Linked DNA regions of Homo sapiens. The protein of the gene in region 1 purifies or fractionates together with the protein of each later gene. This does not show direct contact. Each region holds a gene or a part of one and is shown in the gene's direction. Other genes may lie near its edges.

Region 1 (15,387 bases):
CTGCTGTCTTCTCAGGGAGACTCTGAGGCTCTGTTGAGAATCATGCTTTGGAGGCAGCTCATCTATTGGCAACTGCTGGCTTTGTTTTTCCTCCCTTTTTGCCTGTGTCAAGATGAATACATGGAGGTGAGCGGAAGAACTAATAAAGTGGTGGCAAGAATAGTGCAAAGCCACCAGCAGACTGGCCGTAGCGGCTCCAGGAGGGAGAAAGTGAGAGAGCGGAGCCATCCTAAAACTGGGACTGTGGATAATAACACTTCTACAGACCTAAAATCCCTGAGACCAGATGAGCTACCGCACCCCGAGGTAGATGACCTAGCCCAGATCACCACATTCTGGGGCCAGGTACTCAGAATTCTCTTCTAAGGATTTTTGTGAAAGCTTAATGAGTGTTGTTGTTGTTGTTTTGTTGTTGTTCTTTTTTTGGCTAAGATTCTTAGAATCAATGAATGCTTTCGAGAAGTTCGCTAAGCTGCTTGTGAATCTCTTTCTGGATTGCTCTTGGGTACAAGAGAGACTGTCGGTCTCTGTTAGAAAATCAGCAGAGGCAGCAATGATGTGATGGGATAGTGGCCGTAGCATCACCCCATCAGAAAGGGGAACCTGGCCAGCCAGCTTCCTGCTATGCTGGGACTTGATTTCCTTCTTGCTCTGTTGGTCCGGAAAGGAGTGCTGACCCATGCAGACAGATCGGTCACTGTAGACAATCATTTGTTGTTCTTAAGAGAATTGGGCTTTCTTCATCCCTTCCGGCAGGGAGAAGCTGCCCTTTGAGTTTGTCAAAAGCAATCAAAGTTTTTTTACTTTGATTTGTGAGTATACTGTGACATTTCATGGCAGTCTTGTTTATTTGATTTATAGCATTCTAGATTGTTAAGCCTCTCTGTTCAGCCTGTTTTAAAAAGAATTAAAGAGTTAAATAAAAAATAAACTGTTTGAAATGCATACCTTATAGCATGATTTGATGCCTGATAATCACAGAGGACTTGATCTATTTCTCAGGTTATAAATTCAGCTCTAAGGAAATATCTTTAACTCTTGGTAGTATGAGAGTGAGTTAAGATTTCAGTATAGTGAATTGCAAATTGGTGAAACTCAATGTAATTTAAAATATTAAGTACAGGAAGAGACATATTTTGAATTACCCTCTAGACATCTAGTATGCTGAAAACTGTCAGAGGGGGCAAGAAGAGTTACTTTGAGTTATATGATATTTGAACATACAGGTTTTTACTACAAGATTTGATTACTTTAATGCATTAAATAGGACCTGAAGAATTTCTTGTAATTGAAATCTAAATCCTTCCTACCATGGATTCAGAAGTTTGGGTTGGTTGTTTGGTTATATGGTCAGACCAAGATCACACACAGAATCAATTGCAGATTTGAAACTAACCCAGAACTTCTAACTTGACCACACAAGGCAGTTGCCCAAACCATTCTGTGGGGGATGCATCCAGAGAAAATTGCTTCTTTAAGGAGCCACGGAAGAAATGATAATCTCTAAATATGATCCTATCTTTTGAAAACCACTTTTAGAGATTGTCTATTCATCTGATAATCTTTTGGCTAAAGGGTAATGATTAGCACTAATTTGTGTGTGGGTTTTTGTTTGTTTTTGTTTTGTGGTGAAGATATTTTCACTTGTGTCCAAGACTTGATCTGGACTTTCCATTTCACACATGGTATCCTTCTTGGCCAACAGATGGTATCTTTCCTGGCCATGACAGTGTGATTCCCCCAGAGGAAGCAGAAGGAAGTTAAAGGTTGTCTTTGGTCATTATGTCCTGACAACCAACACCCAGCAGGCCACTGAAATTCAAATCACATTTCTCCTTCACTCTACCTTCTAGGTTCCTGAAGTATTTTCAAACAAACCACCAACAGGAGATATTGAGGATATTTAGAGTTACTGACATTCTGGAAGTTTTCACTACAACTCCTCTACCAACGGCTATGGAAACCACAGTTTGCATTTAGGATTGTGCTATGTTCTTCCTTCTTTCCCTACTTCCCCTGTCCCTCTTCTTTGATCGTAATTCAATTTTCCTCTTATTCATTCAGTTCCCGTGTATTTCTTGTGCTTCTACTTTGTACCAAACTTTAAAAGGGGGGCCAGGGATATATAAAGATAAATATGCCTGAGCTCCCATGTCCAAACCATCCTGAAGGGCTGTAGTAGAGATAAATTTTTGTTAATTAAATTAAGTTTAATTAAATGCCATGTGTTAAATAAAGTCAGTACATGAAAGGCAATTGGGCAAAAGTGTCAAAGTACTGATAGTTTTTGAGCTGGATCTTAAAAGATGGTATTAAAAGAATGACTATCCACAGCAAATTAAAAAAAAAAAAGTGCTGCAACAGAGACTGGAAAGCCTGTGAGGAGTTGGCTGTGGCTGAAGCTCCTGGGTTGGGGATGCAGGGGTGGGGGTTGGGGGGACGACGGGACATTACACGACTTTAGTGCCAAGAAGGATTCTGCTAGCTGGTTTAGGAGCTTAGATTTTGCTTTGCTAGCTAGGTTTTGTTTGTTCATAGCAGGACAGTGAGGTAATCAGATATATGGTCTGGAAAGATGCTCCAGCTGTGGGTTCATGGTGGAGTACAATGGCCAGAGATCTGGGGTGGGCAGACCTGGGCTCTTTTTTCCTGGTATTTTCTTCTCTGTAGCCTCTTTTTCATTCACCTTTGTCAATCTCCCCTCCTTCTCCCGGATACCCATTTCTCCCTCCTCCCACTTCCCTTCCTCTTCTTTCTTTTCCCTTTTTTTGGGGCAGGAGGTTTAAAAAAAGGAGCTATGACTCTCCTTCCTAGAAGTCACTTACTAGTAGTAGAGCTCAGTTCTGCATCCCTACCCCTAGGCCTCCATCTGCAAAATTGATGGAGCATTTCTTAGAGACAAACTCTTTCTCGCATGCTGCAAATTTACCTGCCTTTTGCATACAAATTTGTCCTGCTTTTGGGAAAGGGGATGATAAACAAGGAGGTCATAAATAGCAACTACCTACATGTAATTTTCCCTTACCTAGGAGAAAACTTCTGAATTAACACATCCCTTCCAACTTGTTCTAAGAGTTCCAACAAAAGACTCAACAATGCAAAAGCATTGCTCCATTCAACTGAACTTTGAAAGACAAGGCCAGAGGAAGGAACGTGTAATGCAATGCTGCTGAAGGGTTCTCACGAGGTGCTCGACTAGTAGTAACCAGAAGTCTCTCACTGTTCTGGTGGCAGCTCTGTGCCCTCAAAGTGCCCTCAAGTAGCTTGGTCTTGCACTTCCAATCCTAGTTGGCTCTAGCATTGAGCAACTTCATCTCCTGGAGCTGAATTCTTGTGCCTAGATACTAAAAACAAAATGTTTCTAAATTATTATTTGAGGCTTTGGAAAATACTTTAGTATCTTTGCATTGTAGAGCTGGAAAAAAATGCGAGACGACTGTAGTGGAAAAGTGGGAAATCTTCTCTTGTTTCATCCTCTGAAGATTCTCTGAAAATTAACTGTCCAAAGGCAGATCAATAGGAGAAACACACATACCGCATGGGGATGATTTCCCAATAGCCCAATGTGGTATGCATGCTTACACACCCTTCCACGTAGGGTAGCAGGGAGTTGGGGAATGTAGAAGTAAATTACAAAGTTCCTCTGAGCCCTGAGGGAGGTGCTGTTACCAAAAGTGAATCCACACGGGTCTGCAACAACCTCAATTCTTGGCTCCTCAATTCCATTGAGGGTCATAAGGCGGAAGGAGAGACCAACGCAAGTTTTAGAGCAGGAATGAAAGTTTATTAAAAAGTTTTAGAGCAGGAACAAAAGGAAGGCAGGTATACTTGGAAAGGGCTAAATGGGCAACTTGAAAGACAAGTGCACGGTTTGACCTTTTGACTTGGGGTTTTTTTACGTTGGCATACTTCTGGGGTCTTGCGTTACTTCTCCCTTGATTCTTCCCTTGGGGTGGGTTGTCCACATGTGTAGTGGCCTGCCAGCACTTACTTGGGAGGTGAGCATGCATAGTATGTTTACTGGAGTTGTAACCATGCTCACTTGAGGTATTCTTCCCTTACCAGCCAAATGCTCCTAGGAGGTCATTTGCCAATTAAACTCTGCCATTTTGCCTCTTAATGCACATGCTTGAGCCCACTTGCGCAACTCCTGAGATCTTATTGGGAAGCTGCCGATAACCAGTTTCAGGTTTTTGCTATCTTTAGGAAGACTGCCTTTACCCGGCACTGGCTGCAACCAATTATTATTTTAGAGAAACAGTTAAAAGCCACTTGATCATCACCTGATGATCACCTGATATTCCCGGTCAGGTGGAGCCCTCCCCTACCCTGCTCATGTCTGAGTAGCTACCTACTGTAACAGTATCAAGAAGGGAAGGGAGAGAAATTTACTGTGAACAGAGGTTGTCTTAAAGCTTCCCAGATTATGGCTCCTAGCTTCCCTCAGGAAATAGAAAAAAAGCCTGTCTGAGCCTTGTGATGACTCCCAGTCTCTTCAGTTCTCCAGTGGTTAATCTTTCCTGGTTATTTGATGAGATTCCTAAGGAGGGGGTCTTAAGACAATTGCATTTCTTTTGGAAAGATGCTTTCTTAGTCAAATAAAGAAATTCCAGACAGAGTCCCTCCCGGCACTTCTGGAAAGAAGATCAGAGAGACTGGGAGGCAGGGAAAGGTCAGAGAGAGACCTTGGATCTGAGGCTTCTCTCTCTTTTTTTAATAAGAGATTTGCCACAAGTCAGTTTTCCCTGTGATAGCTCTTCCAATACGTCTTTCTTAAAACACCTAAGTTCAGAAGGATCATGAGGCCCCTCTCTCATGATCTGCATTCATACTGAAAATCAAGATCAAGCAAGCTTTTGTCCTGCTCTGCAGAGCCTTCCATCCTCCCTGTGCTCACCTTATCTTCGTGGCTTATTTCTGAAGCCTTCCATTTCCAAAGCACTCAACACGCTGAAGCACGTATTTTGAAGAGTCATTTTCTGTGCACCAACACCACCTCATCCAATCCTCTGATTTAATAGCCAAAAACAAAACAAACAAAAAAAGATGTCTGGAGAACAGCGACTTCTCTAAGGTCACACAGCACCATGATGGAAATTCTGGTTTCAGTCCAGTGGGTGTTTCAACATTCCTAAGCATCTCAGTATTTCCATTCCATTCCTATATCGATGGTTCCACTTGAGGATTTTCCCTCCTTCCCCTCCCTTCTCCATCCTTAAAATTCATCATTGGCAGAGCCCTGGATTTTCTGAGGTTTAAAAGGCTGAATTTCACATTGGCAAAACCATAACAGGAAATATGGAATCCTTCCTTCTCAGATTACAGTTTTGGATTAGAAGGTGGGGTGTGCCGTGGTGTCTTTGACTTTCCAAGTGTCCTGAAATCCCTCAGATAAAATCCCTGAGATGAAATCCCTCATCTCAAACCAATGGCTTTAGTTGACTTTTCTTCCCCTACCAATTTGACAGAAGGTTTTCATAGACTCTAGTTCTTGTCCAGGTTTGAGCCTGGTAGACTGAAGACAAGACTAGGAGTTAGCTCTAAGTTATAGCTCCTGATCAGGCAAGACTTGGGTTCTGAGAGGTTGCAGGAGAATGCTTGTGCTACAGATTCTGTTCTGTGTTTTCCCTGAATAGCTTGGTGGAAAATTTTAGGACAAAGCAGTGAGAGAGTGAGAACAAAATTCAAGCCCATTTTTTATTAAAGAAAAGAAAGTAAGGTCTAAGTGTTTAACTGTGTGAAGTTTGATCCAGTTCTCTGCTTAAATTTTTAGTGACAAATACAACTTGAATTTTAAATTCTTTTTTCCTCCCTCTGTGTCTCCTTTTTCTTTCTCTTCTTCCCTGGCCTCCTTTTTCTCTCCTTTGCTTCATTTTTTTCATGAATCTCTTAGCAACAACATGCTGTTTTCAAAAGACCGTTGAATTATAATTGATGTCTAGGAACATTTCCACAAGTATTTTGTATGACATAATTAATAGGCAAGTTGCCAGTTTAGATGGGAGTTCAAATTTCATAAGCAACTTTAACTCTTCTGTCAATCAACTTCCACTAGGTCTTTAGCTCTTTGACGGTAAACATACATTTTAGAAATTTATCTTTGTATAAATAAGCATTTCACTCAGTGTCATACTTGAGCATGTTTAGTACCCATTAAGTGCTTATTAAACATTGGTTCAAACAGTGAGATAATCATTTCACAATTTTTTTTTTTTGAGACTGTGTCTTGCTCTTGTCGCCCAGGCTGGAGTACAATGGTGCTATCTCAGCTCACTGCAACCTCCGCCTCCTGGGTTCAAGTGATTCTCCTGCCTCAGCCTCCCAAGTAGCTGGGATTACAGGCATGCACCAGCATGCCTGGCTAATTTTTGTATTTTTAGTAGAGATGGGATTTCACCATGCTGGCCAGGCTGGTCTCCAACTCCTGACCTCAGGTGATCCACCTGCCTCGGCCTCCAAAAGTGCTGGGATTACAGGCATCAGCCACCATGCTCAGCCCAATCATTTCACATTTTAAAGTGGAATGTGTGAAATAGAAATCATGTTAAATAGTTGATTTACTGATAAAGTTAAAGTTGTTTCAAGATGTAGATAATTAATAAAAATGTATTGGACTTATAGTTAATAGCAATGTATTATATTCTTGAAAATTGTTAGGAGTAGATTTTAAGTGCTCTCTCTACAAAAACAGTATATGAGACAACACATATGTTAATTAGCTCAATTTAGTATTTTACACTGTGTACTTATTTTATAACAACATGTTATACGTGATAAATATATATATAATTTCTAGTTGTCAGTTAAATAAGTAAATAAATGTATTGGACTAAAAAATACTTTATTTCCTTCGTTTTCTAAGACAATTTAAGTGTGCTATGGCTGTTTGAAAAACTAGTGTTACTATTCAGAATTTCTAAGAGATCTTAATCTAGCTCTTAACTCAGTATCATGGATATAGTAAGCATTTAAAAACAGTGCTTAAAGTGGATAATTCTTGTAATTTGAGGACCATCTACTCAATTTAGCTACATCTGGGGCTATGGCAGTTGGAAAAGAGAAAAGGCTTCCAAGTCCACTTCTGAAGGAGTTTCTTCCTTTGCTGTTACAGTAGCAGCAGGAAGGCACTTTCCAGAAATAGGACCCAACTTCCCACCCCCACCCACACGCTTTTCAAAGAGCATCTTCCTCTATTGACTTTCTTGTTGCCTTTTCCTTTGATCATCAACTGACCTTAGCTACTCCCTGACCCTTTGCCATTGATATCTCCACCCCATCCCATCTTTTGTGATCTTGCTGTGATTCGATTGGAATTAAGCTTACCTAAGGGCCAAGGCCAGTGGAAATTTAAAAATCCTAATTGCTCACAAGTACCTTTTTTTCTGAAGCTTCTCTTTCTGTCTTTTTAGTCTCCACAAACCGGAGGACTACCCCCAGACTGCAGTAAGTGTTGTCATGGAGACTACAGCTTTCGAGGCTACCAAGGCCCCCCTGGGCCACCGGGCCCTCCTGGCATTCCAGGTAAGGATGAGCAAGACATACTGTCAATCTAATTGCAGCCTGAGCTAAAGTAGGAGCAAAGGGCAAACCTTAATAATTTGGGATCACTTCTGTGTGATCCAAAGGATCCGCTAGACTCTTGGCACCCTGGAATACCAGGTTCATAGGCTGGGAGGCTCCTCAACAGCATTGAGTCCGAAACGACCAGGTCATAGTCTTCGTTCCAGTATATCTGCCACAGCATGCTTTATGAAGGGCAGAGTAGAGCCAAAAGCTTACTGCTCTGGGCTACAGCCATCTCAATGCCAGTCACTGAGCTGTGCATCCTTCTGTGTGACTCTAGGTCCAGCTAAGTGCTTCTTCCTCCAGTCTCAGGATCTCTCCATGTTCAGCCGTCTCTCAGTTGACTCTCATGCCACTCTTGACCTCATGGAAACATTTTTAGGCTCCAGTACCATGTAGTGGTATGGGGAATGCTCTGGAGCTACATGAGACCCCACTAGACCAGCAATTCAGTCATCTGTACTGTGCCAATGCCACCAGGCATAGGAGAGTGCCGCGGGCCTGCTGGTACCCTGGGTCAGTCCAGGAAAGGGTAGCCCAGGTCTCCTCAATATGGGGCTCCCAAGCCTATCTTGGGTTTTATTGTCTTCATCCTCAGGTTAATCCCTAGGGTAGGACCTCATCTCAGGGTCTGGCCAAAGTCCACTGGCTCTTCTGTGACTTACTCTCATTGATGTTAATATTTATCAAATGTGGTTCAATTTTTTTTCTACTTTTGAGTAGCTTCTTGCACAAAACCAAATTTACAGCAAGAAAATCTTATGTTAAACTTTAAACTACACTTACTGGCTTGGAATCTATGTCATTGGCCATCAAGGACAGCAGCCAGCAGGAGCAATGATGTAGGGGTAGGGCCTACTTCGACCCTTGTAAAATCTTCTCAGGTCTTAACTCTTGTGAGGTTACACAAAAGATTGGCCTTGGTTAAATGTTTTCTAACCAGGAAATGGCTTTGTCACTGAACACATTAATTTGTAAACACAGTCAAAGTTCATCCATTTGGTAGGGTTGTAAGCCTGGTATGATAACCAACCAAGGGTAGCATGCAAAATGAACAGCAAAAAGCCTGAAATTTAGCAAATATTAAAAATAAAGAAGAGGTGTAGAAATTGTCTCTTGTTGGCAAAGGGAAAAGTTAAAATTGTTTTCCAACTCTTGCTTTCAAAATCATTGCTGTAATTTGTTTAATGAATGAGTTTACCTTTTCCCCAGTTATAAAAGTGATGTGTTTTTTGTAGAAAACTTCAAAGAAACAGAAAAATATACAGAATGACATGAAAATTACTCATGTTCCACATTTAGAAAAGAACCTCTGTGAATATTTTTCTGTAACTTATTCTTGTCTTTTTTTCCCTATGGATATAATACATAAACACATATTTTTCCAAACAAAGATAGTATCATGTTATTTCTATTTACTCATAACTTTCTTTTGCCTGAAACAAAGTCTGGCTCTTTTGTCCAGGCTGGAGTGAAGTGGCATGATCCAGGCTCCCTGTAGCCTTGGCCTCTTAGGCTCAAGAGGTCATCCTGCCTCAGTCTCCCAAATAGCTGGGACTACAGGTGTGCACCACCACTCCTGGCTAATTTTTTAATTTCTATTTTTGTAAAGATGGGATCTCACCATATTGCTCAAGCTTGTCTCAAACTCTAGGGCTCAAGTGATCCTCCCACTGTGGCTTCGCAAAGTGTTGAGATTACAGTTGTGAGCCACTGTACCTGGCCACTTATAACTTTAAAATCTAAAAATATCATGAATATCACTATATCATTAAATGTTTTTCTTCAGCCTTCTTTTTTATGACTATATAACATAGTTTCTAGAATATGTCATGCCCTCCTAGTATTGGTGATTATATAGGTGGTTTCCAATCTTTGCTATTTTAAATGATAATGTGATAATCAGAATTGTACACAATTTTTCCTCCAAGCCTCGCTTCAAAGGATAAACAGGCTTTGGAGCTTTAGGGTATCTAAGGCTTCTTTCAGAGCCTATTGCCCTATTTAGATGATGATACCCCTTGGTTATATTTGGGATTATTCTGAATGGTCCCCTTTCATAATTGAGTTTGGATAGTATGTCTAGAAATGGATGGTAAGTATGAGTGACTGGGTTTTCTCATGTGATGATGTCTGGTTGTTTAAGGAAACCATGGAAACAATGGCAACAATGGAGCCACTGGTCATGAAGGAGCCAAAGGTGAGAAGGGCGACAAAGGTGACCTGGGGCCTCGAGGGGAGCGGGGGCAGCATGGCCCCAAAGGAGAGAAGGGCTACCCGGGGATTCCACCAGAACTTCAGGTAAACCATCCTCGGTACATCTCCTGGTGGCTTTCCAACCTGCCTGACCAAAAGGGGCCAGGAATCAGGATGTTCGAGCGCTTCCTCAAGTCTTCCCCAATCCTGAGTAAATCTGAGTCTCAGTTTGTTCATCTACATCACAGGATGTTTGCATAAGGCCCATACTGTCCAAAAGGAGGACTTAGATACTATTCTTAGGGAGGAGAGACATTTATGAAGGGTGAAATCTAAGTCCCTCATAGAACCAAATCCAAGGCAACCCTAAATATAAACTTATCTCCTATTTTCCCAAATAAGATGTTTTAAGAATGTAATAAGATGTAATAAGGGTTTGGGCCAACTTGAATGTATAAACATTTAAGTATATAAATGGAATGATGAAATGTCTAGTTATAATATTGTATTTATTAACATTGTTATATTTACATATACTAATCCATACATAAATATTGATATATATTGTTTTCTCTCAACTCAGATTTTGTGGTATAATTTTTGTTTATTTTTTGAAACAGAGTCTTGCTCTGTTGTCCAGGCTGGAGTACAGTGGCACGATCTTGGCTCACTGCAACCTCTTCCTCGTGGGTTTGAGCAATTCTCCTGCCTCAGCCTCCCTATAGCTGGAATTACAGGCATGCATCACCACACCTGGCTAATTTTTGTATTTCTAATACAGACGGGTTTTTGCCATGGTGGCCAGGCTGGTCTCAAATTCCTGGCCTGAAGTGATCTGCCTGCCTCGGCCTCCCAAAAAAGTGCTGGGATTACAGGCTTGAGCCACCACACTTGACCTTGTGGTATAATTTTTACTTGAGCTTTTCTTGTCAGAATCTTCTTTATCAATGGAGAATTTCAGTTTTGAGCCATCCACTCAGTGTTCCAGACCAGATTACATTCATTTCAGCATAAAGTTTAAAAAATCAATTTATGAGGTTAAAACTGTACATTTTTTTCCAGGCTCAAGTACCCATTTACCTATTCTTTCTCTCTCTTTTAAATGATCATTAAAGTTCTTATTGCCAACACGATCTTAAACTTGTAAATGTGAGGTTAGGTCACAAGGAAAATTACTAACTTTGGGTTATTTCTGGAAGGTGGAGGAGGGCTAATATTTTGAAATGGATCCCCTCTGGGGGACTTCTATCAGCATTGAAAACTAGCATTTTTTAAAAATTAAGTTTCTTTCTGACTAGTGTCTTCCCAAAAAAAGTAACTTGTGGATAAAAATAAAGTAACTGAGATAAAGTACTGCAACATGAGAGATTTTTGAAGAACTAGACTATAAAGCGATTCTTGCCTGAAAGATCAATTAGGGGGAAACTGTCTTTCATTTGTGCGTGTATGGTGGTGGTTTGACCCTGTATAAGTTCCATCATTTTTCTGGGCCTTGGTTTCTCAAGTTTAAAATAGCTTGAATAGTTAGTGTGTTACTCTCATTTGTGGGTTTTGCAACTTTTAAATGAAAGCCGTTTTGTTTTGTTTTGTGTGTGTGTGCACAGGCTGGAGTGCAGTGGTGTGATCTTGGCTCACTGCAGCCTCCACCAAGGTTCAAGCGATTCTCTTGCCTCAGCCTCTGGAGTAGCTGGGATTACAGGTGCGTGACACCATGCCCGGCTAATTTTTTTGTATTTTTAGTAGAGACGGCATTTCTCTATGTTGGCCAGGCTGATCTCAAACTCCTGGCCTCCAGTGATCGGCCTGCCTCGGCCTCCCAAAGTGCTGGGATTACAGGTGTGAGCCACTGTGCCTAGCCAAATGCTGTTTAATAATTTCAGCAACCTGGGATCCATGTGCCAATATAAATTTACAAACAAAAAGGCTAGAGATGCCACTCAGCCAGGTTAAGGTATTTAATAAGACAGAAGATAAACATCTCAAAGCTAGACACTCTAACCCATAACCTATGAATGGTAAACCACGGAGAAGGGGCCCTAGAGTAGCCAGTTTGATAGAGAACATTCTGGGCAATTATTAAATTTGTCCCATCAGCTATTTTACCCTAAAATCACAATACAATCATTTGGGTCTTACACAGATTGTGAAGGAGGGAACTTCACATTCTTTGAAGGTCCCAGCAAATTAAAGAATTTATTAATCTAACTTACACTCAGTTTCAATGACTCATTTGGACGAAGGATTAACTTTGACTTTCACAGCTCATTCTTCAATGGTGGTTTTAAGCAAAAGCTTTTCTTTTCTTTTCTTTTTTTTTAACTTTTATTCTAAGTTCAGGGGTACATGTGCAGGTTTTTTACATAGTTAAACTTGTGTCGTGGGGATTTGTTGTACAGATTATTTTATCACCAGATATTAAGCCTAGTACCCATTGGTTATTTTTCCTGATTCTCTCCCTCCTCCCACCTTCCATCCTCCCATAGGCCCCAGTGTGTGTTGTTCCCCTCTATATGTCCATGTGTTCTTATCATTTAGCTCCCACATATACATGAGAACATGCAGTGTTTGGTTTTCTGTTCCTGCATTAGTTTGCTAAGGATAATGGCCTCCCGTTCCATCCATGTTCCTGCAAGGGACATGATGTCATTCTTTTTTATGGCTGCACAGTATTCCATGGTGTATATGTAGCACACTTTCTTTATCCAGTCTATCATCAATGGGAATTTAGATTGATTCCATGTCTTTGCTATTGTGAATAGTGACAAAAGTTTTCTTGACAGGCGGAATTGTCTCAAGGCTTTTAAAATTATTGTTAACATTTTGTATTTTGAACTTCAACCCTGTCTTTGGATATTAGTAGTATAGAGGTGGCAACAATAGTAGTAGTGGTGGCAAGAGGAGGAAGAGTACTACCCCATTCTCCACTTAGGGGATATAGAAATTTGAGGCCCAATTACTAATTACTCAATTGCCAAGTGACAGAATTAAGAGAGGTGGACCTTAATCTCATATCTTTGGACCCAAATAGACAGCCTTATTCCCAAACTCATAGAGCCTCTTGGTTGCCACCGTGAGCAGGTTTCTCAAGTTAATTCTCTTTGCTGATCTTTTACTGATTAAGCAGAGGCTTTCAAAGTCCCTTAAAAGATTACACATAAAGTATTTGTAACCATTCCCAGAAATGGGTGTTGACCATTAAATGACTTCTTGGATTCTCCCATCTCTAAACTTTACAGTTCCAAGATGACATTTTTTCATCCAAAATCATGCTGAGAAATTTTTGCTGTTCTAATATTCAAAAAGATTGCTAATTTTAGTAAACCATTTTTCTATATTTTAGATAACTGCAAACACTCCTTTTTACCTTTTCAAGGTTATTTACGTAATATCTTTTCACTGTTAAAAAAAATTAGAAAAGTTCTGGGCCAAAAATAATAAAACATGCCAAGAGATGATTACTGTTAACATACAGTTATGTAACTTTTCAGATTTATGCATACTTATATACATGTTACTTTTAAATATGATGGGAACATATATACATATTATTACTTTATTTCATGAATGACAATCTATCCTAAATGTCTGTTCATATAAATAAATACAATCCTATAGCTTTAAAATTAGTATCTTTTTTCTGAATATAAAATTAATACATGCTAACTTGAAAATTATAAGTGTAATGAAGAAAGGAAAACTTTCCCATGAAACTTCTACCAAGAAAGACCTGCTATTAATAATTTCAAGAATATTCTTGCAGATATTTTTCTGAATTGCCCACACAATGACTCCATCCACACAGACACAGTTAATAAAGGCTGGTATCAGATAATAATGATCTTGTGTTGTCTACTTTTTGGGTAAACAGTGTATTGAAGATATTTTCTCCTTTTATACAGATGCACATTTAGATCAGCATCAAGAATTCTCAAAGTGTATTCAAAGAATTAATTTCATTAGAAATTAATAGGCTAGGCACCATGGCTCACGCCTATAATCCCAGCACTTTGGGAGGCCGAGGAAGGTGGATCTCTTGAGCCTAGGAGTTTGAGACCAGCCTAGGCAACATAGTGAGACCTCGTCTCTATAAAGAAAAAAAAAAAAAGAAATTAATAGGTATCTTTTCGGGAAAAAATAATGCAGGGTTACCAAAATTAAAATGTTTGGCTATAGGGTTTCTCAGGTCCTTGAATTTGCTAATGTGCATTTCTCGGCTATAAGTGGAAAATTTCATATAAAATTTTCTGGTATTATTTGATAACAGAATTTTAGTATTTCAAAAATCATTTGAAAGACAAATAATCTTTGAAACCTATGTTCAGAACTGTTGATAGACATTGTCAATCTAATGGCTGCATAGCATTCAAATGTTGGAATTACCATAATTTATTTGTTTCTCTCTCCATAGATTGATGTTTATTCCCAATCTTGCTGTTATGTATAATGTTTAACAAACTAATCTGCATAAAAACTTGACTTCTTTAAGATAAATTGCCTATTTATTGACCAATAATTCTTTCCTTAGATTGCATTCATGGCTTCTCTGGCAACCCACTTCAGCAATCAGAACAGTGGGATTATCTTCAGCAGTGTTGAGACCAACATTGGAAACTTCTTTGATGTCATGACTGGTAGATTTGGGGCCCCAGTATCAGGTGAGATGGAAACATAGGATGAAGATTGAGTTAATCAATGTAATAATAAAGACAATTAAGGAAGGAAGGAAAGAAGAGAGGGAGGGACGGAGAAAGGGAGGGAGAGAAAGAAGGAGGAAGGGAGTAGGAAATAAAGAATGACATTAAGGTAGTTATTTTTTTTCTGATTCACGTTAAACCAAACAGCTCATTTAGATTTCTGTTGGATTTCAAAGTAAACGAATTAGAATCTGAAAAGACAAAAATAGTTTTTAAAATATGGCCATAGTCATTAATATTATTAACTCTGATTTAGACTGAGCTAAATAATTCTTAAGAGGACATACTTACCTCTGACTTTAAAAGTCCTTAAAACATAATTCTCAGTTTAAATGTGTCATAACTGTTTCCTCCCCCTGCCACCACCTCAAGGAGTGCCTGATCCTATTTTTTTAATTAAAAGAAATTGAGCAGGTAATACATTTACTTATTTAAAAAGTTAAGGCCCGGCGCGGTGGCTCATGCCTGTAATCCCAGCACTCTGGAAGGCCGAAGCAGGCGGATCACGAGGTCAGTAGATAGAGACTATCCTGGCTGACATGGTGAAACCCCGTCTTTACTAAAAATACAAAATATTAGCCGGGCGTGGTGGCGGGCGCCTGTAGTCCCAGCTACTCAGGAGGCTGAGGCAGGAGAATGGGTTGAACCCGGGAGGCGGAGCTTGCAGTGAGCGGAGATCGCGCGACTGCACTCCAGCCTGGGCGACAGAGCGAGACTCCGTCTCAAAAAAAAAAAGAGCTTGTTTATGCAAATGAATACAAATATATCTTCTCATATTTCTAAATAAAAGCTAGGACACTCTACATTCTGATTGTGTCTTGCTTTAAAAAAAAAAACTAACAATATATTTTAGAAATCTTTTCACGTCATTACTTCATCTTCTTTCTTGTAGCTGAATGTACCAAAGTATATTTAATGAATTCCCTTATTTCTG
Region 2 (15,387 bases), on another chromosome or scaffold:
TAGTGAAGCCATCTGGTTCTAGGCTTTTCTTTATGGAAATTTTTTTTATTACTAATTAAACTTCTTTTCTTGTTATTTATTTACTTTCTATTTCTTCTTGAGTCAATTTTGGTAGTTTGTACCTTCCTATCAATTTGTCCATTTCATCTAGGTTATCTAATTTGTTGCCATACAATTGTTCATAGTATTATCATATAATCTTTTTTACTTTCATAAGGTCAGTAGGAGTGACCCCTCTTTCATTCTTGACTTTAATAGTTTGAGTTTACTTTTTTTTAATTCATCAGTTTAGGCAAATAATTGTCAATTTTGTTGATCTTTTCAGAGGACTGACTTTTGGTTTTGTTGATTTTTCTCTATTGTTTTTCTATTCTCTAGTTCATTTATTTGTACTGTAACCTTTATTATTTTCTTCCTCCTGTTTGCTTTGGGTTTAATTTTCTCTTTATCTAGTTTCTTAAGATGGATGGGAGGATTATTATTTGAGATATTCTATTTTACTAGAGACATTTGCAGCTGTAACTATATCTCCAAGTACTATGTTAAGTGTATCGCATAAGTTTTGGTATGCTGTGTTTTCATTCATCTCAAAATATTTTCTAATTTCCCTTGCAATTTCTTCTTTGACCCATTGGTTAGGAGTGTATTGTTTAATTCCACATTTCTGAATTTCCCAAGTTTCCTTTGGTTATTGATTTTTAATTTCAAACCATTGAGGTTGGAGAACATACCTTGTGTGATTTCAATCCTTTTAAGTATACTGACACTTAATTTATGACCTATATGGTCTTTATGGTCTAAAAAATGGTATTTCTTAGAGAATGTTCTATGCACACTTGAAAGTGTGTATTTGGCTATTGTTGGGTGGAATGTTCTATAGATGTCTGCTAGGTCTGATTATTTTAAGATATTATTCAAGTCTTCTGTTTCCTTGTCTTCCTCCTGCCTAGTTCTATTATTGCAGGTGGGATATTGATGTCTTCCCCTATTATTGTTGAATTGTCTGTTTCTCCTTTCAATTCTTCCAGTTTCATGGTTCTGAGGTTCTGTTAGGTGCATATGTATTTATAATTGTTATGCCTTCCTGATGGATTGACCTTTTTTTTTTGAGATGGAGTCTTGCCCTGTCACCCAGGCTGCAGTGCAATGGCACGATCTTGGCTCACTGCAAGCTCCAGCTCCCAGATTCACACCATTCTCCTGCCTCAGCCTCCCAAGTAGCTGGGACTACAGGCACCCACCACCATGGCCGGCTAATTTTTTGTATTTTTAGTAGAGATGGGGTTTCACCGTGTTAGCCAGGATGGTCTCGATCTCCAGACCTTCTGATCTGCCCACCTCGGCCTCCCAAAGTCGTGGGATTACAGGCGTGAGCCACCACTCCCGGCCCAGATTAACCTTTTTATCATTAAAAAATGTCCTTCCTTGGCTCTAGCATGAATTTTGTCTGAGATTTATTTTGCCCAATATTAGCATAGCTCTGCCAGCTCTCTTGTCATTGCTGATTATATGGTATATCTTTTTCTATTCTTTTACTTTCAACCTATTTTTGTCTTTTAATCTAAAGGCTGCCTCTTATAGATACCACATGGTTGTATTAATTTTTAAAACTTACTATGCCAAATTCTTCCTTCATTGCAGTGTTTTATTCATTTGCCTTCACTACATTTTTTTCCAGATCCTTAAGGTCAGCCAGAGGTGAGAGACTAGGGACTTCTCAAGTTTTTCCTGGGCGTGTGGACAGCCCTGAATATGCCTGGGGCCTTCTAGATTCTCAGGGATATTTTGGAGCAAATCAAACTCCCTATGGACCTCTTATTCCTTGGTTTTTCCTTTTAAGTTTTTTGGTGGGCTTCTTGTTAGCATCAGCTGATAATGCTTCTCAAACAGCTGTAATGTTAAACAGTTGTTGCTCATGGGTTTTGACAAATGACCTGCAGATAGTGCTGTTCACAGAAAATGAACTCTGAGTCAGGTCAAATCAAGACAAGCTCTGAGAATGTAGCTTTTCAAGGAGCTACTAGACAGGTTGAATAGAGATTATTTTCTGGGGGCAGGTCTTTAAGGGAGTCTCAGTCCATTTTGTCCCTGCCAGTGGCTTCTGGGTTGGTGGGGTTTGCCGCTCTCTTAGTTGTGAGGCTACTGGTTTTCAAGGCTTTTGTAGGGCTGGGGTGAACAGGTTAGGATTAGGGCAGCTGTGAACTTCACAAAGCTCACTGTGTTAACAGAGATTCAGCAGTAGGTCTTGATCAAACACTCCTTGGATTATTGCAGTACTTTAACTAATTTCCATAGGAGTGTACTTATTAAATCTTGTCAAAAAACTGATGATGCTTAGAACTATGTTGGGCACTATGAGGGATACACAAAAATATGATACCCTCTTGTCTTCCCAGACCTCATAATACTAGTGTGACACATTAGCCTGGAGGAACTTCTAAGGAATAAAGGGAAGCCTCTCTGTCTTTGTCTGTGTGGGGGAGGGGTGTTTGCAGAACTAACTCTCTCTTTCTCTGGCCTTTGTGGTGGGGACCTTTGACTTGTTAATCTCCAGACGTGTTTTATGTGATGCAGGGCACTCAACACAAGCCAGCTGAAGGCACTGAATATTGAAATGCTGCCTGGCTATCGAGATCCCTATTCCTCCAGGCCTCTAACAAGGGGTGAAATCGGCTGCTTTCTCAGCCACTACTCAGTCTGGAAAGAGGTAAATAATGCTTTATTCAGATTGCAGTTTTATGATGAGGAGAAAGGAAAGCAGGCTATCGTAGGTGAGTTAGGGCCAGATGTAAAGTGAGCCCGCAACTGTTCTGGAAATGTGCATGAGAGCTGCTCCTGCCTTGTGTCTCCCTCTGACCCAAGACCAGCAACAAAGGGGCAAGGAGGAGTAGCTTTGGTGCCACTTGGGGTGGTGACGGGGGAGACACCCATGTCCTGTGTGCCACACTCTTATTAATTCATTATCATCATTAGCAGGAATGCCTTCTATTATACCTATTATGACATCACTTATTAAGTGATTTTATACAAGAAATCACACAGAAGTCATGTGAGGTGGGTTGGGAAGGACAGACCACCTTTACCGAAGAAGAAATTATTAAGTAGCTTGACCCGGTAAGAAGTGGCAGAGCCAGAAGTGGAACCCCTGTCTTACAGATCAAGACATATCTGGAGCAGATATTGGTGTGTGGGGTTCCTGATAAACAGTCAGTTTCCACAACCAAAAAGAAAGTCCCTGAAGAAAGGCCCCTTGAACACTTTCTCTTTTAATGATCCAGTCTATGCCTGCCTTTGTTTTCTTTAAACTTTAAGTGAAATGTGATAAATAGGTATAAAAAGATATAGATCAAAAGATACAGCTCAGGGAAATTTCACAAACCAAACAACACACCCATGTTAATCAGTACACAGATCCAGAAGCAGGTAACCAGCATCCCACAAGCACCCCCCCACCCCGTACTGCCTTCTGGTCATCAGTCCCCAAGGGCAGTCACCATCCTGACTTCTAAAGGCATTGAATAGCTTTACCTTTGTTTGTACTTTCCCTTATATGAATGGAATCATGCAGTATGTGTACTCTCCTAACATGACATTTAGGAGATTCACCTATAACGTTGCGTTTAATTGTGATCATATATCCTCACTGCTGTGAATATTCCAAAGTTTATTATCTATTCTACTGTTGATGGCCATTTGCTTAGATTCCAGTTATGAATCTGTGCTACTAGACTCGTGACTTTTTAATACTTATTTATCTAATAAAAATTGGGTTTCAAACTTTTCATAGGGTATCTTCCTACTGATGACTTTTGCAGGTAATTGATCGAGAGCTAGAGAAGACTCTTGTAATTGAAGACGATGTGCGTTTTGAGCATCAGTTTAAGAAGAAGCTGATGAAGCTGATGGATAACATTGACCAGGCTCAGCTGGACTGGGAACTGATGTGAGTGACAAGATGATCTTACGAGAGGGCTCTGAGAGGCACTCAGTCCTTTCCAATGCGCAGAGAGCCCCACCTCCACAGCCAGTAGGAGATACAGCTTAAGCTTCCACTTATCTAGTTTTCTTTCCATAAATGTTCTCAGAAATAAAAATGGGTAGAGGTTAGCCACTGGATTTTGCATCCTTCTACTCTTCAGGGTGGGAAACTGTGGAAGATTGTCTGAGACCTGGAGTCGGCCTGCAGATCAGGGACCTTCAGACAGAACCAAGGTGTGGCACTGAGCACTTACTTAGGAGCACAGCAGAAATCCCACCCTCAATTAACGTGGCACATGGAGTGGGTGTGAAGCTGGAGAAGAGGCCATTTATTCAAGCTCTAAAGTCCTGTGTCATATTTAAGACTCAGCTCCCGGGACAGCAGGTTGCCTCTGCAGCTTCCGAGAAGGTGGGAGGTTAGAGGGTCAGCCAGGGAGCTCCTCTGTTGGGAAATGGGGCTGCACAAACATGAAGAACATGGACAACTAGATTTGGGGAAGGGTCTGAGGCTGATGCAGGAAAACCAGGCTCACCAAGGGAGTGCTGGCTCTGAGCTGACATTTAGTTAATGTTCTTTGTCTACTCTCTGGGAATTGAGTGGCTTCTGCTTTTTTCTTCCCTTCCCTTTCATTTTTCCTTCCCTTCCCTTTCATTTTTCCTCTCCCTCTCTCCCTTCCTCTTTCCTTTTTCTTCTTCCTCCTCTGCCTCCTCCTTTCTCTCTCTCATTTTCTTTTTAAAACAAATGACACTTTCAATTTCTCTCCAATGAAGCAGAAAGTTCCCAAGCATTGTGTTTGCTCCCAGCTGTGTGTCAAAGGCAATTCATCAACTCTGAGCCTGCTTCTTTGGAGCAGCTGCAGCAGAGGAGCTGTCCCTGCTTCTCCCACCCACAGGCGGTATTTAACTGTGGGCCCAGGTGGAATACTTGTTCCCTCAGAAAATGGGCCACTCTGAGCTCAGAAGAAACCTAGCAATGGCTCAACTAATGCGTCACTGTGTAATAAGACACCTATGCCCTGTCAGATTTCAGTCATGTGGTCATGTGGTTTGGTTTGGCATTCTGCACAGTCCCTTGAGATCACTGTTTCTTCCTATATCCTCCAGAAGTCGCTGCACTTCAGCCTTTCTCAATGGATGGCTCCGCAGCCTGTGGTTAAGGCCTCACAGGCCTGGAAGCTACTTGATGTCCACGTGACTTGTATAAAGGCAACTTCACTTAAGCCTCATAATCACAGAAGACTGAGCCCAGAGAATCTAAGGTTTAGAGCTGGCATACGTTCCCGTTCACATGTAGTTCGGTGGGTGCATTTCTCAGGACAAAGTACCGACAGATGCAAGAAGGAAGAACAGTTGTCTTGATAAGGATACAGGAAAAAAATGTTTTCTAAATTTCACAGGTTGATCAAGTCAAAATATCCCCTTAAAATCTATTATATAGTCTTAAAGAACTGTAACAGTTTTAAATTGTACCTGTTATTTTCTAAAACAAAAAAGAAACAAATGTTACTTAAACCTAAAACATGAAAGGTAATAAGCTGTTCATGATTGCCACATTACATCTTTCCAGGAAAAGAAAATAATAAAAGGGAAGAATAGAACAAGTCATTGGAATCATTGAGGGAGTGTTGTTCAATAGAAATATAATGCAAGCCACATATGTCATTTTCAGTTTTCTAGTAATCACATTAAAAAGGTAAAAATAAATTAGACTAAATTAGTTTTAATACATTTTATTTAACAAAAATATCCAAACAGTATCATCATTTTGGTATGTAATTAATATTTTAAAACCATTAATGACATAGTTTACCTTCTTTTTTTTTTTGTACCAACTCTTCAAAATCTGGTATGTATTTTACACTTAGAACACCTCTCAATCCAGAAGCTAAATTTTCAGCTGTTTAAGTAAACTGGGCTGGGCGCAGTGGCTCACGCCTGTAATCCCAGCACTTTGGGAGGCCGAGGCGGGTGGATCACGAGGTCAGGAGATCGAGACCATCCTGGCTAACACGGTGAAACCACGTCTCTAGTAAAAATACAAAAAATTAGCCGGGCATGGTGGCGGGCTCCTGTAGTCCCAGCTACTCAGGAGGCTGAGGCAGGAGACTGGCATGAACCCAGGAGGCGGAGCTTACAGTGAGCTCAGATTGCACCACTGCACTCCAGCCTGGGCGACAGAGCAAGGCTCCATAAAAAAAAAAAAAAAGTAAACTGTCGTCCTACCAAAACAATGAACTTGTTTCATGGAAAAAATATATATATTTCACACAGCTTCAACATTTAAAATTAAATTAATTAAAGTTAGAGCATTAACTCAGCACCTCTATCACTCTAGTTCCTCTCAAGTGCTCGATAAGAGTTTCCCTTCCACTGGATGAGACACGAGAGAAGCTCAGACTCCGTAATCTGAAGAGAGAGTGGCTGGGGATATATGTTTGTTGTTCTCAGAAGAACTGAAGATTGAACATAGACTTGTTCTACAAATCCTGGGATGCTTTCACAAGGGGGAATCCCTTGAATGTTGAAAGAGATTGTTTTAGGGCAAAATAGAGGAAGTACTGCTTTACCTGGCAGGCAAGAAGGAGGCAACTCCTCAGGTTGCTCCAGTCAAGCCCAAATCAATAGGTTCCGGACAAAAGTAATGGAGCACAGATCCATGGGTAGACTAGGGAAGATGGGAGTGGCCAAAGGTGCATCCTGTGTTGTAGAAGTTGTTCACGGAGGACGGAAGGTGCCTGGGGGGCCTTTCTCAGAGCAGCATGTCTGGGAGGAAGCCTGGCCACAGCTGGACGAGTGTGAGGCAGGAGAATGCCTGTCAGGAGCTGTCATTCATCCTCCCCAAAAGGAACCCCTTAGGGCCACTCTTGGGTTCCCAGAACCTTCACTGCAGACTGACTCTTTCCCCCAGCTTATTTGGTCCTGTGTTTCCCACCAGCACTCGGAGTGCTGTGCAGAAGGCATCCAAGGCTGACACTCTGGGGACCTGAAGACAGCAGCCTCAGGATTCTCCCATCTGGCCTTTTTTTGTGCCTTTCCAACCTCTGTAAACACAGCTGGAAGCCCCATCCCATCTTTAAGAAATGATCTGAAAGATCTTTTAATCTTACGACATCTTACTTTCCGTCTTGAAAACCGTCCACTAGGCAGGAATAGTGGGGGTGTTGATAAATGGAGCTAGCAAAATGGCCCCAGTGATGGCAGATGGCAGTCCTGACTGGCGATTGGATCCACTTTTGGATGTGATACATCATTTAATGACAGACAGAGTCAGTCCAGGATTTCAGAGGTATCTATGTAAACCAAAGCTGTGCTTCATCCTTATCATGGCATAATAGTCAAGGTGGAATTTTTCTCCTCTGCCATTTCCTTACAGTTATATTGGTAGGAAGAGGATGCAAGTAAAGGAGCCAGAGAAAGCAGTGCCCAATGTGGCAAACCTGGTCGAAGCCGACTATTCCTACTGGACCCTGGGCTACGTCATCTCTCTGGAAGGAGCACAGAAGCTGGTTGGAGCCAATCCTTTTGGGAAGATGCTGCCAGTGGATGAGTTTCTGCCAGTCATGTACAACAAGCATCCCGTGTGAGTCTCCCTGAACTGCCTGCCTTCCCTTGGGCACAGCCTCTTCATGAATTATGCTCTCCATTTCTGGTAGTACTTGATATTTTCTAAAGTTGTACTGCTTTCCTAAATGATCTTCTCATAATTATGATTAAGAGAGCCTAACTCAGGTGATTTATCCCTTTGTACAGATGGGAAGGTGAGGCAGAGATGGTGAGTGTCCTGCCCAGAGATTCTTGTAATATCCAGTTTGTAGTTGAACTGAATGTAATGTGCTTGGTCCCCTCCTTGTCTTTGCTCTTCTTATTTCCATAACCTCATACACCTCAAGGTGAAGGCCATCTTCCTAAGCACCTCAAAATTTCCAGTTCCTTTGGCTCAGGTCATTGGGTACTGTTGGCTAAGCAGAGATACCCATTTTTGCATAGCTCACAATCTGGTCAGGAACCCAGACTCATGAACAAATCATCATGATATATTGTGATTCCTGCAATCGCAGGGGTGTGTAAGAGGTTCAGGGAGTGTGGACCTGATACCTGAGCATGATGTCCATGGAAGAAGGGCAGTGTGATGCTTGGGGCTCCCATAGCCCAGGAGCTTACCCTGACCTAGCGCTTATCAAAAGGTGTGGCAATTAATGATTTACCTGTCAATCTCCCCAATAAACTATAAACCCTTTGGGGCAGTAACAGTCTTATGCCTCTGTGTCCTTAGAGCCTAGTCCAAATGCTACACATAACAGCAGCTCCTAAATCATTAATGAATGATTCCTAAATTCATTGATGGAGCAGCATTCGTTCTAACCTTGGCCCCTTCTCTCAGTTGCTGGGTGATCTCGTCACTAGATGGTCTCATTTTAGCTGTTGAGATTTCCTGTGCTGCCACCAGTTCATTTTGTCTCTTGTCCTCAGTAAAAATGGAGTTGTGTGCCCTCTTGTATATAACATGTCAGAGACTGACTTTATCTCTGTGTCCTAGCAGAAACATGGAGGTCAAACCATTATCCCCTAAACAAAAGGGAAATTACTACATTCAGATGTCACCTCATGTACTCTGCACAGGAGCCCTGAGAGGGAGGCCAAGTCATCCGTCTCCTTTACACCTGTTGGAACCGGAGTGGTGAGCAGGGAGCTAGAGCACAAAGCCAAGCCTGCGTGCCTCTAAGCCTCCACGTGCCACATGCCCCATCACTGCTGTCCAGATGTGAGGTGTCTCATTTATTAATCCCAAAGCAGGGCATTTTTGGTGAAGTGATCGTATTTATTTATCATTATGGTCTAACAGGGCTTACTTTTTAACTTTTGGAGTCAGACCTGAAATTCATCTTTTAAACTAGTCTATTCAAATACGTCAGAAATGTCCTGATCTTTTTGCTTGGGAGCTTGTCTTTGGAAAGCTTTTAAAGAAATATTTGTGTTTGTAGGCTAAAGTTTTTCACAAATGACACAATTGAAATAATGAAATGAACTCATGAGGTAACCAGGAGGCCTCCTTCACTCTTTGTCCCTGTTCCGTAAGTCTCCTTTCCGCCCCCTCATGTGTCCGGCCACCTTCTTGTTTTCAGAGCCGAGTACAAGGAGTATTATGAATCCAGGGACCTGAAAGCCTTCTCTGCAGAACCCTTGCTCATCTACCCTACGCACTACACAGGCCAGCCGGGGTACCTGAGTGACACGGAGACCTCCACCATCTGGGACAATGAGACAGTGGCCACCGACTGGGATAGGACACATGCCTGGAAGTCCCGGAAGCAAAGCCGCATCTACAGCAATGCCAAGAACACAGAGGCCCTGCCACCGCCAACCTCCCTGGACACTGTGCCTTCAAGGGATGAGCTATGAAGGCTCCCTGGGAGTGTGGCCCACATCAGTTCAACATCCTCTGGTTTTTCTAAAGGGCTATTCATCTGTTTGCTCCAGTTTTCTGTTTTGTTTTGTTCTTAGTGGTCACAGTCATCTAACCAAAGTGATCTAGTGTGATAGATCGAAATTAACATATTTTTGACCATGGAAGGAAATAAGGAAATTCAACCCAAATTTCCCAAGACGGCTGAAAGACAGGTTTTTTGGAAACTGTTAAGATAAACTGTAATCCAGACACCTAATTCTTCAGTTCACTACTCATGTGATACTGATTCCCACATTAAGGTTGAACAACATGGCTCAGAGTCTTGTTCAAGAGAAAGTGATCACCGAGCTGTCACATCAGCAAATATGTAGTCAAGGCAGCCAGGCCAACTAGACCACACTTATTGGTCTAGTTTGTCCGTTTTATATGACATTGAAAACTTGTGTGTGCAACTTTTGGGGGACAGGAATCACTTAAAATCATATTTATTTGGCTTTTTATTTAAAGGATTCTGTCACAAGTCTTATTGAAAAGTAGATTTTTTAAAAAAAAAAAATCTTAGTCCCTGTTATCCAGTAGGGGTGGGTATTTGGGTCCGACTGAGACTTGGCCTGTGACCATCATGGCAGTTGGAGTTCTCATATAGAGGTGACCAGTTTGCCATGTGGATATAATTTAGTAGATATTTGACAGTTTGTGTAGGTATTTGAGGGAAAAAACTCAATGTTTGGCTTTTTTATTATGGCCACTCGAGTCAGGATGCTCTATTTATAAAGATAAATGTAATATATAAAGGGTGAGGACTGGCTGTGCATCCTGCCCTGTCCCGGGTTTGCGCGCTGCTACAGAGCTTCACGCTCTCCGCTCCACCCCTTAGCCTGGGAACCCACCGCAGGTGTGAGTTCTGTGAGTCACTGCTAAGAGACAGAGCACATTTTCAGGCCAGCAACTATCCTTGCCAGAGTTTTTTCATTATATTTTGAATTATTTATTTTACAAAATGGGCGAAGATATTGTCTTTAGGATAAGGCAGAGAAACAGATGTTGCAGACTTCCACGGCACCCGGGGGAGTGGTGGGTGTGGACACATTGGTTCGGCAATCTGATTCTCCTGAATTTCCCAGCCAGGCTCTTGTGGGGAGGCCTGTGGATGGGGGGATTTGAACTATTTGGAAACAAATGATTCTCTATCTCAGGTGAGAAACCTGGTCAGAAACAAAGGGCTGGTCACCTGATTTAGGCCAGCAACCAGGGAAGCTCTTAGAATCCCAGGCGGACACCCTTTCTCAAAAGATATCCCCTAAGAGTCCTTTCTGCTTTCTTCACAGATTGATTTTATGTAAAATGCAGAGTTGGACTACACGATTTCTTCCCACTCCACAATCTGTCATCCTAGTATAGATCATGGTGGTTTCCCTCAAGTTTATGTTCTCATGCCCTCAATCTGTAAATTTTTGTCTCCAGAAAAACCCTCCCAGGCATCCCATACCAGCACCGTTCCTCATCACTGTCCATGCACCATGCAGCCATATGGGGGGCCGTGCACACCCCAAACCCTGAGCTTCACACTTAAACTCATGGGGAGGGCCCTTCAGAGCAGAGTCCACAGGCGGGTGGTGCTACATACACAAGCTTAGTGTACGAGTGTAAGATACACTTTAAGCCAGACACCTAATTCTTCAGTTCACTGCCCATGTGATACTGATTGCCACATTAAGGTTGAACAGCATGGCTCAGAGTCTAGAGAAAGTGATCACCAAGCTGTCTCATCACCAAATAGGTAGTCAAGGCAGCCTCATCTCCCCAGGTGAGGGGCGGGTCCCCACTTTAGGACAAGAGGCAGCTTGCCTTCCACCAGACGCCAGCCTCGGCCTTCCTTCCCGACTCACTGTGGGTACCCTTCTACACTGACCAGCAAGCTAGGCCGCTGGAGGAAAGGGAACTCACCCAACTCTAAATTGTGCCGCTTAGACTTAGCTGTCAGTGTGACTTCCTTTCCCACCCACCCCCAGAAAAACAGAAAGAGCATCTGGGGAGCGAGTGAAAATTCCTTAGGTGATTCCTAAGATTTCCTTGGGTATCTGGTTTTTGTTTTCATATTTGAGTGTGTGCATGTGTGCATGACTTTAATGACTTTTTTAATGGGGTGGGAGGTGGCTGGGGTGCTGGGGTTGAAGGAAGTTTGGGTTGATTTTTGTGGTGTTTTGTTTAATAGAGAATTTTTTTTTTCCTGTTCCCCTGTCAGCTGGTCTGACAGATTTAAGAACTCTCATTCTTAAAAGACTTTGGACTTAAATTCTAGCATTTTAGACTAGGACTGTTCTACTGTGAAGAAAGTTCTGTCTCCTTTAGCCCGGTTTGTTTCTCCCTGCTCAGGTCTAGAATCCCAAGCAGTGTTCTTTTCTGGTGAACACTGTGAGCCGCAGATGTGACTTTTTTTTTAAAGTCATCTCTTCAGCAATCCAGAGGTTCCTTGACCTCATTATTTGTCCTATCTCTCCCTTATAGTCCTAAGCCAAGACATTTGACCTTTGACATTTGACCTTTGCAGTGTCATGTGAGGGCGTCAGTATAGAGGCCTTTGCATCTGGGCCTGGCACCCGCTCTCTGCCTCTGGAGGCTAAACCCTGTCTGGATTTCTCTTGGGATCTAACGTGGGATCTTCTGGACAGACAACCGTGACATCAGCAGTGCTGGTGCTGCTGTGTGTGGACTGAACACCTGCACTTTGCAGAGGACACGCTGCATGGGCCCCGCTTGCGGTTCATTCAGGCCTGCTGCAGGAGCTCTGAGAACAAGAAAGAGTGGACACCCGTTCCCCTGCATCATCTGTCTTGCGTGCTATTTCAGAGTGGGGAAGTGATAAACTATTTGCCTTCTGGAGCTCTTTGTGAAAAATTAAAAAAAAACTTAGCTCAAAGATATGATTGTCAATTGCTTCCGCAGGCACTGATCAATGGCCAACGCTGCAGAGATTACCAGGTCTGCCCTTGACCAAGGATGTCAGAGTCAGGGGGAACCATCACTGCTGTGTGATCCCCATGGCAAATGAGGGGAGGGTGGTTGCTGCCCTTACTGTGCAGTGAGGGTTGTTTTAAACTGATGGGTACTGTTATGTAAGCTGAAAAGGATTCCAAGGTACAGAAAGATGGAAGAGAGCCCCCACTGGGAGGGAGTGGAGGTGTCCATCTTGCATTTTGTGCTACAGGTCAGCCTATCCGTTCATCAAAAGATACTGAGATACTGTGATACCAGTCCAAGGCCAAAGAGCTTTTTCCTGGGGAAAAATAACAGCAGCAACAAAAAGAAAATCCTTGTTGATCTCAGTGACTGCTTGAATTTTTAGATCAAGCTTACCCCTAATCTCAAAAACCAGGCTGTGAACACTGCCTTGCTGCAGGCTTTGTGCTGGGCACTGAGATGCTCAGAGAAGTAGGTAAGGTCCCTACTGCTGTGTGGGGCCCGCAGTCCAATGGAGGAGCAACATAAAGCAGGTGGCTGCCAAACAGGATGGTTTTATTTCAGAGATGAACAAAATGGGCAGAGGAGGACTGTCAGGGCAGCTCTGCTGAGAAGGTGACATTTGGGTTGGGTTTTGGAGGATGAATTGGAGTTCAGAAGAGGGAGGAGGGCTGGGCACAGTGGGTGGAGATGCTGTCCAGGCATTGCCTGACAGGACTATGAAAGGGCCAAAGTGGGATTCATGGGAACTCAGTAGGGCAGAAGAGTTAGGCATGTGTTGGGGTTGATAACAAACAAGACTGAGACACAATCATGCTGGCAAGGCAAGTTGGCTGCCTCCCTCTCAGGGCTGTCTCCTTCTCAGGGCTGTCTCATCATAAGCACAGAGCCCAGCATTTCTGGGAGAATTCTAAGTTTGGTTACCATCTTGACAGATAATACAGAGGCTTCCAGTAAAATGTTGATGTCCAAAACAAGAAATATTCCCACTCAGCTACAAATTTGGGAATCTTATGGTTTTTCCCTTATGATTGGAGCAAATCCCTCCCGCTAGTAACTATAAAATAAAGATGTGTCTTCCCAGGAGGCTTTCTATAACGTGCTTTTGAGACATTCTTGCCAACTAAACAGAGGAAAGAAATGATCCAGAAGTGATCTCCCTGACAGAAGTTAATTCACTAAGGAGTTAAATAATGACAAAGTAAAGTTAAAATGAGGCTGGCTATATGAGAAGAAAATAGCATGTAAGGGGTGACACGTTCTGAAAACTAAGAGTAGACAGCTTTGGAAATGTCACGCCCACATGATGTTTTGTGGTGATGTTTATTATTTCAGGGGAACCGGCTGTCCTTCAATTAAATGCAGCTGAGGGAGGAAGGCCAGCAGGAGAGGAGGGGCATATGAGGGGCTTCCCTGTGAGCCCGCGGCCCTAAGTCAGTGTAGGGCAGCTGAGACAAGAACCAAAGTGTGGACAATGTCCTTTTGTACCTGCTTGGAGAAGAGAGAAGTAATGATGGTAGATTTTAGTACATTATATTACAAAAGATTACGTGAAAAATGGTGCTCCCTCTTATCCCAGGGACAGAGCAAGAGGAGTTTAGGTGAGCTTTCAGGAAGAATTCATTGACAGAATTGTCAGACACTGAATGGGGTTCCAAGGTAAGTGGTGGAATGGCTCCATTAAACTTTGTTGCTGGGCAGAAGAGTGGCTTCCTTTCTGCTCTGTGAATTACTGAAATGCCCTAGTATTTTGCTTCCACCCATGGATGTGCTAATATGTGAGCTGATCTTTGTTCAGTAGCCTCTGTGACACCAGCTGTGTTGCTTCCAATCCAAAGCCATCCATCCTCCCATCTGCCCTCAAAAAGAGTGGAAAGAATGAAGAATCGTCTCTGAGGATTGCCTTCTCTTTATTTTTAATTTATGGAGTTTGTTTTTATGCCCGTCCCTGTAATTCTCCAGCCTGGCTTCTCTGGAACAGGTGCTTTAGTAAACTTACCATGTCTGAGCAATCCTAGGGCCCACAGAGCACTAGCTCTGCCCCCATGGACCTGGCAAGGCTTTGATGGGGGTTTCCTATTCCACGGGTGGCTGGGTGGATGTCTGGGCTCTTACTAGTGGGGGAATTTGATTTTCAAAGTGGAGTGGGCAGCTCTCTCTCTCTCTCTGTTCTTAGATGCTTGGAAATTAATCAGCGACAGTTTCTTCTCCCAAAAGGAAATGAGAAGTTTGGAACAGACCCCCAGACAGGAGTTCAGTTGTCCAGGCATTTTGATGGTGTGGCCTGAAGGGCTTTAACTGCTTTTAAAAATTGCTAGCATAAATTGTGAAGACTTGAAGGGGATGATATTGTTGCTCAGGCCTAGCTCAGGGGAGGAAACCATGAGCAGAGTTGAGTGCAAGGGACAGAGTGGTGCAAGCCTGTTGAGAATCCGAGGGGAGAGGAAAGAGGCAGCTTCTAGCGCACCACACACGGAGCAAAGTCCTGGTGCTCAGAGCACAGTCTGGGAGAGAAGTGCAAGGAGTGGGGAGAAGAGACTAATGCAAGCCCATCGCTGGAGACAGTGATGCCAGTGCACAGGCCAAGAAAGAGGAGAGGGAACCAATGGGGAAAATAGTGTGGTAGGAGGGAGGCTTCAAATGGAAGTGGTGACAGCCTTGTCCTTAGAGTTTTATCCTTTTAAGTCTGCAACTATGGGAGAGATTGAGTTGGTGTTGAGTTGAACCGCTTGCACAGGAACAAGTGAAATGTCCAGTGCCCCCAATGCTTGGGGAAGAGCAATAACTCACAATCAAGCATCTCCATTGTCCCTGGACAGGGCCTCTGGAACCAGAGTCGAGAACCCCTTCCTGTAGGAAAGACACAGGGACTGTGGACAGACACAGAAGGGGGTACCCAGGAGCAGGGAGCAGAGTTTCTGGTGAGAAAAATCCACCCAAGGAGGTGGGGACTCATGGGAATCGCTGCCAGCTCTGTGTGGTGGCCGATCTCTCAGGCCCTGAGAGGGACACTCCGGCCCAGGGCTGCTTGACATCAGCCA

Evidence for each region.
Region 2: the proteins of C1QTNF3 (region 1) and COLGALT2 purify together in Homo sapiens (affinity purification with mass spectrometry; 3 studies listed by BioGRID and IntAct, with this or other methods). This does not show direct contact.

What each region holds. Positions count from the first base shown.
Region 1 is NC_000005.10:34,027,781-34,043,167, reverse strand, and holds part of C1QTNF3 (complement C1q tumor necrosis factor-related protein 3 isoform b precursor), read left to right. Parts: 5' UTR 1-42; coding exon 43-345; intron 346-7,409; coding exon 7,410-7,521; intron 7,522-9,709; coding exon 9,710-9,864; intron 9,865-14,284; coding exon 14,285-14,414; intron 14,415-15,387.
Region 2 is NC_000001.11:183,932,752-183,948,138, reverse strand, and holds the end of COLGALT2 (procollagen galactosyltransferase 2), read left to right. Parts: intron 1-2,574; coding exon 2,575-2,707; intron 2,708-3,815; coding exon 3,816-3,943; intron 3,944-7,351; coding exon 7,352-7,558; intron 7,559-9,101; coding exon 9,102-9,378; 3' UTR 9,379-12,305; downstream 12,306-15,387. UniProt on the Homo sapiens protein: Beta-galactosyltransferase that transfers beta-galactose to hydroxylysine residues of collagen.